2 separate regions of the Homo sapiens genome follow, and region 1 is linked to region 2. The links come from fine-mapping of genetic effects on gene expression. Tissue or cell type: whole blood. Region 2 holds a variant in brackets; the other region holds the start of a gene. All regions are shown on one strand. Distances are from middle to middle.

The links. PIP is the estimated chance that this variant, and not a neighbour inherited with it, causes the effect.
Region 1: it holds the start of CDV3, and the variant in region 2 is fine-mapped to the expression of CDV3 in whole blood (TOPMed, PIP above 0.99).

The regions. Positions count from the first base shown.
Region 1 is chr3:133,571,421-133,576,567 of GRCh38, forward strand. It overlaps CDV3 (CDV3 homolog), which reads left to right and starts at 2,266. Exons shown (of 5, transcript NM_017548.5): 1 at 2,266-2,864; 2 at 3,619-3,695. The coding sequence starts at 2,625. RefSeq lists enhancers at 1,255-1,494, 1,437-1,938, 1,595-1,764 and silencers at 2,145-2,684, 2,705-2,814, 2,845-3,234.
Region 2 is chr3:133,701,025-133,706,171 of GRCh38, forward strand. It overlaps a transcript of TF not described here and the pseudogene INHCAP. Among named protein-coding and RNA genes, the nearest start is that of TOPBP1, 42 kb to the left of the region's middle. The variant T/G (reference allele first, on the strand shown) is at 2,641.

The DNA of each region.
Region 1 (5,147 bases), 130 kb before region 2:
CTCACTTTTGAATAAAGCACTTTGCCCGAAATATAGCAAAATAAGTGCTTCATAGATGAGGAAAGAAAGAGAGGGAGAGGGCCGGGCATGGTGGCTCACACCTGTAATTCCAGCACTTTGGGAGGCTGAGGTGGGTGGATCACGAGGGTCAGGAGTTTGAGACCAGCCTGGCCAACATGGTGAAACCCCGTCTCTACTAAAAATACAAAAATTAGCTGGGTGTGGTGGCGGGTGCCTGTAATCCCAGCTACTCAGGAGGCTAAGGCAGGAGAATCGCTTGATCCTGGGAGGCAGAGGTTGCAGCGAGCTGACATGCCATTGCACTCCAGCCTGGTGACAAGAGCAAGACTTTGCCTCAAAAAATAAGTAAGTAAATAAATAAATAAATAAATGAAAGAGAGGGAGGGAGGAAGGAAGAAAGAGGGGGGAGGAAGAAAAGAAGGAAAGAAAAGAGGAAGGGAGAAAAAAGAAGGAAAGAAAAAAAAGAAAGAAAATAAATTTGATTAGCGATGGTAAGGGAGGGTGATGGTGATGGGCAGTACTGAACCTGGCCTGCATCACAGGAAGATATATGTTGTCATAGAAGGAAGTCACCTTGGGAGCTGTTCATGTTTGGGGAATAGTATATGTATAAGCTCAAGCTACTTGCTGGCCAAGGCTAGGTCCTTGATTTCTTTTGACATTCAGAAGTTAGACTTTTTTTTTTTTTTTGAGACGGAGTTTCACTGTTGTTGCCCAGGCTGGATTGCAATGAGGCGATCTCGGCTTACTGCAACCTCCGCACCCCCGGGTTCAAGCAATTCTCCAGCCTCAACCTGTAGCTGGGATTACAGGCGTTAGCCACTACGCCCGGCTAATTTTCGTGTTTTTAGTAGAGACGGGGTTTCATTATTTTGGTGAGGCTGGTCTCGAACTCCTGACCTCAGGTGATGCGCCTGCCTCGGCCTCCTGAAGTGCTGGGATTACAGGCGTGAGCCACCGCGCCCAGCCAGAAGTTAATTCTTTAATAGCAGTGTAAGTAGGGGGTAGGAAAAGAGAAACTTTAATGGGGTAACTGTAAAGGAAAAGACGAAGAAGTCTCTCCATTTACTGGCTGGATTCTATCTACCCCATATGGCTACCAACATTTGTCTGAGTCATTTCCTCAATGGTTGTGACAGCTCCCTCTTCTGCTTTTAGAAGGAGGAAGTAGAAAGTTTAAGAGCTTACTTTAGACCACCTTTTGCATATAGAATTCATTTCATTTTCAAGGCCCCAAGGGTATTTAAATGGGCTTTAAACCCATTTAAACCTGGCTTTCGCCTGGGCATTTTGGTCTCCACCCCTATGATAAGACAGTCCCCTCCTTTTATCAGGGATAGAAGCTAAGGATAAACTGTATCATCATCTAGACTCAAGTCAGGGCGTTAAGCAATGTGCTGAGCAGCTAATAATGTTGACTCTCTTCCCTCCATCCCCCTATCTTGTAAGAAATAGTATACCCACTTTACAGATTAGGGACTTGACGATAGGATTTATTGAACTTGACCTTGGTAAACATAATCCAGAGGGTGGAGTTCAGACAAAATCCCTTTCTACCTACCAACCAGCCTATGAAAGATCTTTTAGTAAATGGGACCTAAACTTCAGGCTCACTGCTCCTCTCACTTTCACAATCAACCGGTAAAGAAGAAAAGTAATGGTTGCCACTCCAGAGGGGGTGGAAGTACAGAAGCGATCAGAGGAGAGGAACAATCTTTAACACAGTTGGCTTAACGCAGTGCCTGTCCGTTTCGCGACAGTTCAAACGACTACTATGGGGCCACGGTTTGTTCTGGGCCAGGAAACACACGTGCATCCTGCGCATGCGTCCAAAAGGAACCCACTGCCCCTCCTGCTGGACCTCTTTAGCCAAGTCATCAACCAGCCCTCAACATGCCCGCCCTCAAGACTAAACCCTCGGCCAATCGGGAAACCGGAGTCGCCCGGCACGTCACTTATTTTGCATATGCCCTCCTCTCCCCGCCCCCATGCTTGGACTCCGCCCCGTCTGGGTCAGGGATTGTCACCTAAGAGCTTCGTCCTGGCACCTGATTGGCTCTCTTTCCAGCTCCGCCTCCATCTCCTCCCGCCGCCCGCCCCTTGGCGATCCCACAGCGGCAGGCAGAGCAAAATACGCAGGCGCAGGCGCTTCCTCTCTCTTCTAGCGGCCCGCCCTCCCTCCTCCCTCTCCCTCCCCTCCCCACTCCCTTCCCCTCCTCTCCAGGCCTGCGCGCGCGCCTCTTCCTCCGGCACGCGCCGCTGCTAGCCGAGCACTCTCGCCAGAACCTCTGGCTCGCGCGTGCCTTTTCCCCTCAGGTTGTGGGGAGAGCGGAATCCTGCTCCGCCGTCGCAGCAGCAGCGGCAGCCCCGGCAGCCTCGGGCGACAGCGGCGGCGCGCGAGCCCCCGGGCGGACCGTACCACCGCTCGCCAGCACGCAGGGGGAGCCGCCCGTCTCGCCGCGCACGCCTCGGCGACCCCGCGGGGCTGAGGCGTCGCCGCGCCCGGCAGCGTGAGCGCAGAGCCGGCCTCGACCCCGAGCTCGGAGCCCCGCGGGCCGCGCCCGCCGCCGGCCCCACCCATCCGGGTCGAGGAGGCCGAGGCCATGGCTGAGACGGAGGAGCGGAGCCTGGACAACTTCTTTGCCAAGAGGGACAAGAAGAAGAAGAAGGAGCGGAGCAACCGGGCGGCGAGTGCCGCGGGCGCAGCGGGCAGCGCCGGCGGAAGCAGTGGAGCCGCGGGTGCGGCGGGCGGCGGGGCGGGCGCGGGGACCCGGCCGGGTGACGGCGGGACCGCCAGCGCGGGGGCTGCGGGCCCAGGGGCCGCCACCAAGGCTGTGACGAAGGTGAGGGGCCGGGAGGCCGGCACTCGGGGCCCGGGCCGCGCGCCGGCGCCCCATGTGCCCGCCCCCGCCTGCCGGGGAAGCGTCCGGGAGGGGCCGCGGAGGCCGGGCGGACGGGCGCGGGCCGCCACGTGACGCAGGCTCTCCACCTCGGGCTGGGCTCGCCAGGGCCGGGACCCCTTCCGATATCCGCGGTGGAGCCGCCCTTCCCACCCCGCGTCGCTCGGCGTTAGCCAAGGCCCGGGCGGCGCCACCCTCCGGGGGCACTAGGTCTGGGGCCGCAGTGCCCAGCACAGAGCAGCGTTTATCGGGTGACGTCTAGGCTGAGTAATTCCGTGTGCTGACCTCAGCCCAGTAGTTTGAGCTGAATTTTCGCTTTCAGCAGCCGCATTTGTAGCAGCTCTTTTGTGATGACTTAGTCTCTAAGCCCGTGAAAGAAAAAGAAAACTCTCGGTGGCAAGGTTGAAGTAGAAATGTAGTTGTGAAATTCCTATTGACTTCTTCCTTCGGCTTTTCTTAGTTGCTTAAAGTAACAGCTCCCATGCAGGAACCCAGCGGAAGTATAGTGTTAGCCTACGAGCATGTTTGTCCTCCATTTAGCCTAGTTTGCCCCAGAACGAAGCAAGGGCTTTGACCAGAAGACAAGTACATACTTAGTTTAGGTTCCAGCCACTTGATCCACTTTTCGTAGTGTGTTATTTGCTTAGTTATATGTCTACAAATAGCTTTAATTGATCAAATGGCGTTTGTTTTACAGGACGAAGATGAATGGAAAGAATTGGAGCAAAAAGAGGTTGATTACAGCGGCCTCAGGGTTCAGGCAATGCAAATAAGGTATAGTCTGGTTACAAATGTGTTTAGATAACCTTTGGGATAGATATTGGATACAAGTTAGGTTTTCCTTTGGCCCCAAAGCAGCATCATAGTAGCCTTGTGCTCTAGATATGCTTATTAGGACTCAAATGGGTTCTGTCTACTCTTTCTCACTCCATGGAGGCAGCCCTTCCGTGTGCTCATGAAATTAGCTGCTGACTCTAAAATCCTGTGAGAGCTTGCCTACTTCCAGTTCTGGTTAGGACTTTTCATTTGAGACAGCTAAAGTGGATTTTGTCGCTTCAAAATTTTTACTTTTAACATCGGTGATTGTACTTAGTTTTGGTTTCAAAAGTAATGTGGATGTTTTTCACATCCTCTCCAATAAGCAAGTGAATATATGTTTTTGTAATTGAAGTATATCATACTTACAGAGAGATAGAGGTTTTATGTGTTCACACAGTGCAACCAACCTGTGCAATAAGCACCAGGTCAAGAAACTGAGTATTACTGATACAGAACAAGGTTCCCCTCCTAACACATACTCACTGCATTCACCTTCAACATAACCACTATTCTAACACCATAATTTTTTCTAAAACTTCATAGGAATGGAATTATATTTGTAAACATGTTATTTTTTAAAGTTCAAAAAAATAGTAATTTTTAAAAATTGGGTAGTTTAGAAGATTTGAAATTAACATTTTGTCAAGTCCAGTCTATGGCAGTCAACTTTAAGGTTGATGTTAAGTAAGTGCTATATTTTGGAGGGTTCATAAAGTAGGAAAAAACAAATGAAGATATGGTTCTGCTGTAAGATGAAAAAATCCTTTGCTCCCGGTTTAAAGAAATAAAGGATCTTGATAAACTGTCTCCAGTTTGAAGGTTGCATTTTATAGGCAATGCCAGTGAGTGCGAGGCACAGTGGAGGAAATACTTTCCTTAACTGAAAACTGTCTTTTGACTTCTCTGGATGTTAGTATCTATAGCTTTAGATAACTTACTCAAAAAGCAGGGTTAATATTATTGACATTTGTTGAACACCTACCACAGCTAGGCATTAATGTCCTACTGTGAAAACATCATTTTGTGAGCTTAACCAAAGTGAAACCCCCAGATTGATAATGGGAAACTTTCAGGAACGATGGCTTCTCCACTCTTGAGATTTCTTTGTAGTGGTGTTGAGTAGAAGTGATTAGACTTGAGTTTGATTCCCAACCACTTGTTGGCTTCCTTAATGTGTCTTTCTCTTTTCTGTCTCCTGGGGCTTGACCTGTAAATAATGGGGAGGAGGGAATGTGAGGTTCTTACCATTTGGTGTTGTGGAACTGCCTGTGTGTGTGGCTCCGGTTCTGTTGTAAAGTTTGGCTCTTCTTAAGTCTTTTCTTTCCTAAGTGACTGCAGGTTCTTGAAAACGTGAGTGACTGGAAGAATAGTGTTTGGCCATGTTGAACTTGGCAAAATAGCACTTTT
Region 2 (5,147 bases):
TTTTTCCGCGACTCAGGATCCAAAAAGAGGTATGTAAGGTCCCGGGAGGGACCTGGCCAGCTTGGGCAGCAGGGTGGGGTGGGGCCATCATGGGAGGCTTTCCAGGTGCCTGCAAGCTTCACCCAAAGTTTATTGGCCTGCAGAGCCCAAGGGAGCTACTAACTGCATTGGGTTAATGAGGGGGTTTTCTGTGATTAGAAAGTGGCTTTAATGGCCTTCATATTCTAGAAAACTTGAAGACATGATTGCCCTGGCTCCTTTTTATTAGGTGGGGTCATCCCACCCAGGGTGAGTCTATTCGACATGGAGTATAAAAATAGTCCATCTTAAACTGAAGTGGGAATGTGGCCACTACCACCATCCAGAGGTTTCTGGTCTGGCCATCTACTGGATCTCTATGGTTTATTTCTTCCTTCTTTCCTTCTTCTAGCTTTGCCCTCCATTTAGTCAACCAGTAGGTATTTGCATCTACAGAAGGGCAGCCACTGTGTTAGACGTGGGCATATGGTGGTGAGCAAAGACACTGGGTGAGGGGAGAGCAAGCAGGCCCACCCAGAACAGAACTCGTGACTGCCAAGTGGGACATGCTTCCTGGATGGGGAGCCCAGTCTTGCAAGAGAAAACCCCAGAAGACCCTGAGCTGGGCTGGTGCTCAGAGAGGCCTCCCTGGGGAGGTGATGCCTGAGGAGCTGAGGTCAGGAGCAGGGGGAAGCTCTGTCTTCACTGATTGATTTTTCTGAGAAGTGAGTTCCCCATTTCTCCTGGAGGGTGACAGGCAGGAATTAGCAGTGTCATGGGAATGAGACATGTCAGCTCTGCTGCTGCCAGTGAAGGCCTTGTTGGACAGCCACTCTGCAGCGCTAAGCTCCCAGACCTACCTGGGGCTTCCTTTGGATCCCTCCACCCGGCCTAGATGTGGAAGACTCCCCAGGGTGCGGTGGTGCGCAGTGGGCCACCATGAGAGGGCCAAGTGTGATGAGTGGAGTGCTGTGACTGGTGGTGCCTTGGCGTGCACCATGGAGGAGACCCCAGAGGACTGCATCACTGCCATCACAGTTGGAGGGCCCTGCTTTTAAGGCTGGGCTCAGACACTCAGACACACAGCACTTCTGCCAAATCTGGCATTGAAGCTCTCCTTCCCAAATGCCTCTTCCTCAGCCTCCAGGATAAGGACACCTGTTGTGTGCTGCCTCCCACCCACCCCACAGGCCCCTCCAGCTCTGGGCAGGGCAGAAACACAGAGCCAATCCAAGAGCTGGACTCCTGGGGGGCTCAGCTCTGGAGTCCAGTTAGCTCAGGGGAGTGTCTTGCCTAGGAGTCCCAGGAAGTAGGGTGACATTCCGGGCTATGGTCAGGGCTACTGTGAATTGTGAAAGCAGATCAACCTTTTCAATCCTTTAATTGTAAGTTTATTTTTTCTGGTTATAAAATATTACAATAAATAAATAAAAATAGGGCTGCAGTGAGCCATGGTCACACCATTGCACTCTAGCCTGGGTGACAGAGCAAGACCCTGTCTCTAAAAAAATCAGAAAGTAAAAATAAAATCATTCACAACTTCATCACTCAGAGATTATGTGATGATGATCTCTGAGTGACGAAGTTGTGAATGATTTTATTTATTTTATTTATTATGATCTCTGAGCGATGAAATTGTGTTGTTATTAACTTTATGAGCAGAACTATTTTTGTGATTAGGAAAAAATAAACTTATAAATAAAGAATGAAAATTTGACAAACTTAGAAGGCTATGCAACCATTTCATTTTGTTTTGTTTAACTTGAGAAGACCCTCATCTTGGTAAACCTTCCTAGCACCAATTCCTAAGATTAAGATCTTGATGGTTATGTAGTCTACTAAATGTGTCAATTGTAAGGATTAAGTAAATCTCAGTACATATAACATTGCCTGGCATATAGTTAGCAGTAACTAAGTGTTAGCTGTTATTATTATTCAAAATCCCAGGGACAGTTGGTATATTTTCTTAAATAATGAAACACTCATTTAAATAATGGCTATGTAATATTCCACCAAGTATGTTAGCCTCCATTTAACCAGTTTCTCAGTGTTTATATTTGAGTTATTTCCAAATCCTTTGCTATTATAGACAATGTGGGATTGAAAAATCTTTGTATCTATAAATGCCTATATTTCTGAGTATATCTTTAATATTAATGGTAACTAATTTTTCTGGAGTTACTGTGTGACAAGCATGTTTATGAGCTCTTAAACTGTATTACTCATTTAGTCTTCATGATAAACCTATAGGGTATAATTTTTACCCAACTTATGGATGAAAACATGTAAATAGCATAGTATTGAGGGAAACGTGCTTTAGGGTAGACAGATCTTGGAGGCCATCTGGAATAGTGGTTACAAGGAATTAAATTGCCTAGGTTTAAGTCTTAGCCGCTGTTGATTGGACAAATTTAACCTTTCTGCTTTCATTTATAAAAGAGGGGAAATTCTAGTATCTAGCTTATTGAAGTTTGTGAGGAATATATGAGGTAATCACTGTGAAGTGTTTAGAAAGGAGCCTGGCACATAATAAGGCTTGGTAAGTTTTTGCTGCTGTAGTCACTGTTTTTAGATTTCTAGAAGGGTAGTGAAAAGGTCAAAAACAAAGAGCATGTATATGCA[T/G]GTTTTTATCTTGGTGACCTTATCTATAAGTATACATTTTTTACTCTATTAGAAAAATTAATTGATTAAAATAATAAGTGAATTATTAGTGTATTATCTAGAGAAATGAATTATTTATTGAAAATCTTTGTTGTGCCAGGCACTGAGTACAGTGCTAGTGGGATTATGGGAACAGATTTGAACTCCATTATCTGGAAGAAACATATCCCATAGAAACAGGTTAAATGCATTTCCTGAGTCTGGCCATGTTAATTGCTGGGTTGAGTGACTATAGCCACAAAGAAGGGGTGGTGAGGTCATATCCAGGACGCAGCATGGGTCTCATCAGAGGACACAGAGATGTCCAGGGGGCATGACCTGGGTTGGAACTTGTTCCCAGGTCAACAGGCCAAGAGCATGTCCAGTTTTCTAAACCCTGTGTTTACATGGCAGAAGCTTTGAGTGATCCACAATTGGTTAATCACAAGGATGTTTACATGAAGCCAGTGAAATGAGAACCTCTGAGGGTCAGAGGCCCAGGAGACAGCTATTGTGCTATTGATTTGTTTCTTAACTTCAGAAAGGGGAAGCTGATGCCATGAGCTTGGATGCAGGATTCATCTACATAGCAGGGAAATGTGGTCTGGTGCCTGTCCTGGCAGAGAACTACAGTAAGTGGAGGGGAGTGTCCGTCTCCATTTTTTCTGTCCACAGTTCCCCTGGGCTGTGGGCATAGAAAGATGAGGAAATAACTTAGTTTAGTGTTGAGATAATAACTATTGTTGGAATGTATGGAGCTAGTAGAAAAAAAAAGTCTCCCTCTCCTGGAGCCAGAAACAATTAAGATATAGACAAAGGAATCAGGCAGAAAGAGATCAAAATAACACCTTTACTTCTGAGATTGTGATACTGGAGTGTGTGATGTAGAGCTGGCACGGGGCTGCAAGTCACCCTTACCTTAAAGTTGCCCACTAGTTCAGGAAAATGGGTCTGATGGCTTATGCCAAGACTAAGGGCAAAGGGAAACACATTTTATCATAGGTGAGAAGACCCAAACAACTCTCTCCCCATTGTCTTCAAGAAAGAAAGAGGGGCTGAGCCACATGTGCTCATGATCCTTCACCCAGATGCACTGGGTGGTTGAGAAGGTGGGGCTGCAAGGTCATGTTCTTTAGTGGGGATCCATCCACATGGAAAAATGAAGCTGGTGTAAAAGAGGGTTTCCCTAATATCATTGATTACACCTCATCTGCTACATTATCTTTCAAAACAAAACGACTCTGTGAGGTAAATAGTGGTATCTCCATTTTATAGCTGTAAAAACTGAGGCTTAGAAAAGATAAGTGATGGGTCGGGCGTGGTGGCTCACACCTGTAATCCCAGCACTTTGGGACACTGAGGTGGGTGGATCACGTGAGGTCAGGAGTTCGAGACCAGCCTGGCCAACATGGCGAAACCCTGTCTCTACTAAAAATACAAAAATTAGCAGGGCATGGCAGCAGGTGCCTGTAATCCCAGCTACAGGGAGGCTGAGGCAGGAGAATCGCTTGAACCTGGGAGGCAGAGGTTGCAGTGAGCTGAGATCGTGCCATTGCACTCCAGCCTGGGCAACAACAGCAAAACTCCATCTCAAAAAAAAAAAAAAAGGATAAATGATGTTTCCATTGTAGAATAAAGACTGAATCCAGATCTTTCTGACTCCCTGGACTGGGTTCTTTCCCTCCCGTATAGCAAAAATAATGATTGCCTACCACAGTCTAAGACTCTGAAGGGAAGAAAGATATCAGGATGACTTATTACACAGCTAATGCAAAGGGATATGACCTCTCCCTCTCTTTCCCTTCAATGAGCACCTCCACTTTCTTTGCCTGCATCTGCTAGAGTACTGGGGAGATTTTGGGATGGAACCTATCTTCAAATAGGAAAGAGCAGAAGAGGGTAAAATGGGCTTGCAGAACCTTAACCCACTGATACCCAATGATACCTTGCTCATATTATTATTGACTATTGAGATTGAGAAGCTCCTGACTTTGGATGGAGTAATGTGAGGGTTTAATGTCATGTACCTTGATTGTTTTTCTTTTTCTTTTTAGAGCAGTTTAGGTCTAAGTGTGTGAATTTACCCATGGAAGGTGAGTTAGAATCAGTAATACTGGCTCAAAGGTAAAGGCCCATTGTTGGGGAGAGGAAAGCTTAAAAACAAATAAAAATGACTGGAGGTGGAAAAAAATTCACAGTTAATTGTTAAGATGCAAACCTATCCTGGGGTGTAATAATACTATTTGCAGGGCACTTTATAGTTGGCAAAGGACTCCTGTTTGCACTATTCCTGTTCCCTCTTCTCAGCAACCCTGGAGTATGTGGGCATTGTTGTCTCATGTTATGGAGCTGGAGTCTGAGACTCAGGGACTGAGTGACTTGCCCAGGGCCACACTGCCAGGAGGCGGCTGCACCTGGGTTTCAGAAGAGGAGGAATGGCTGGAAACCCCAGGCCCTTCCTGGCACCACACTGCGCCTGAGCACATGCT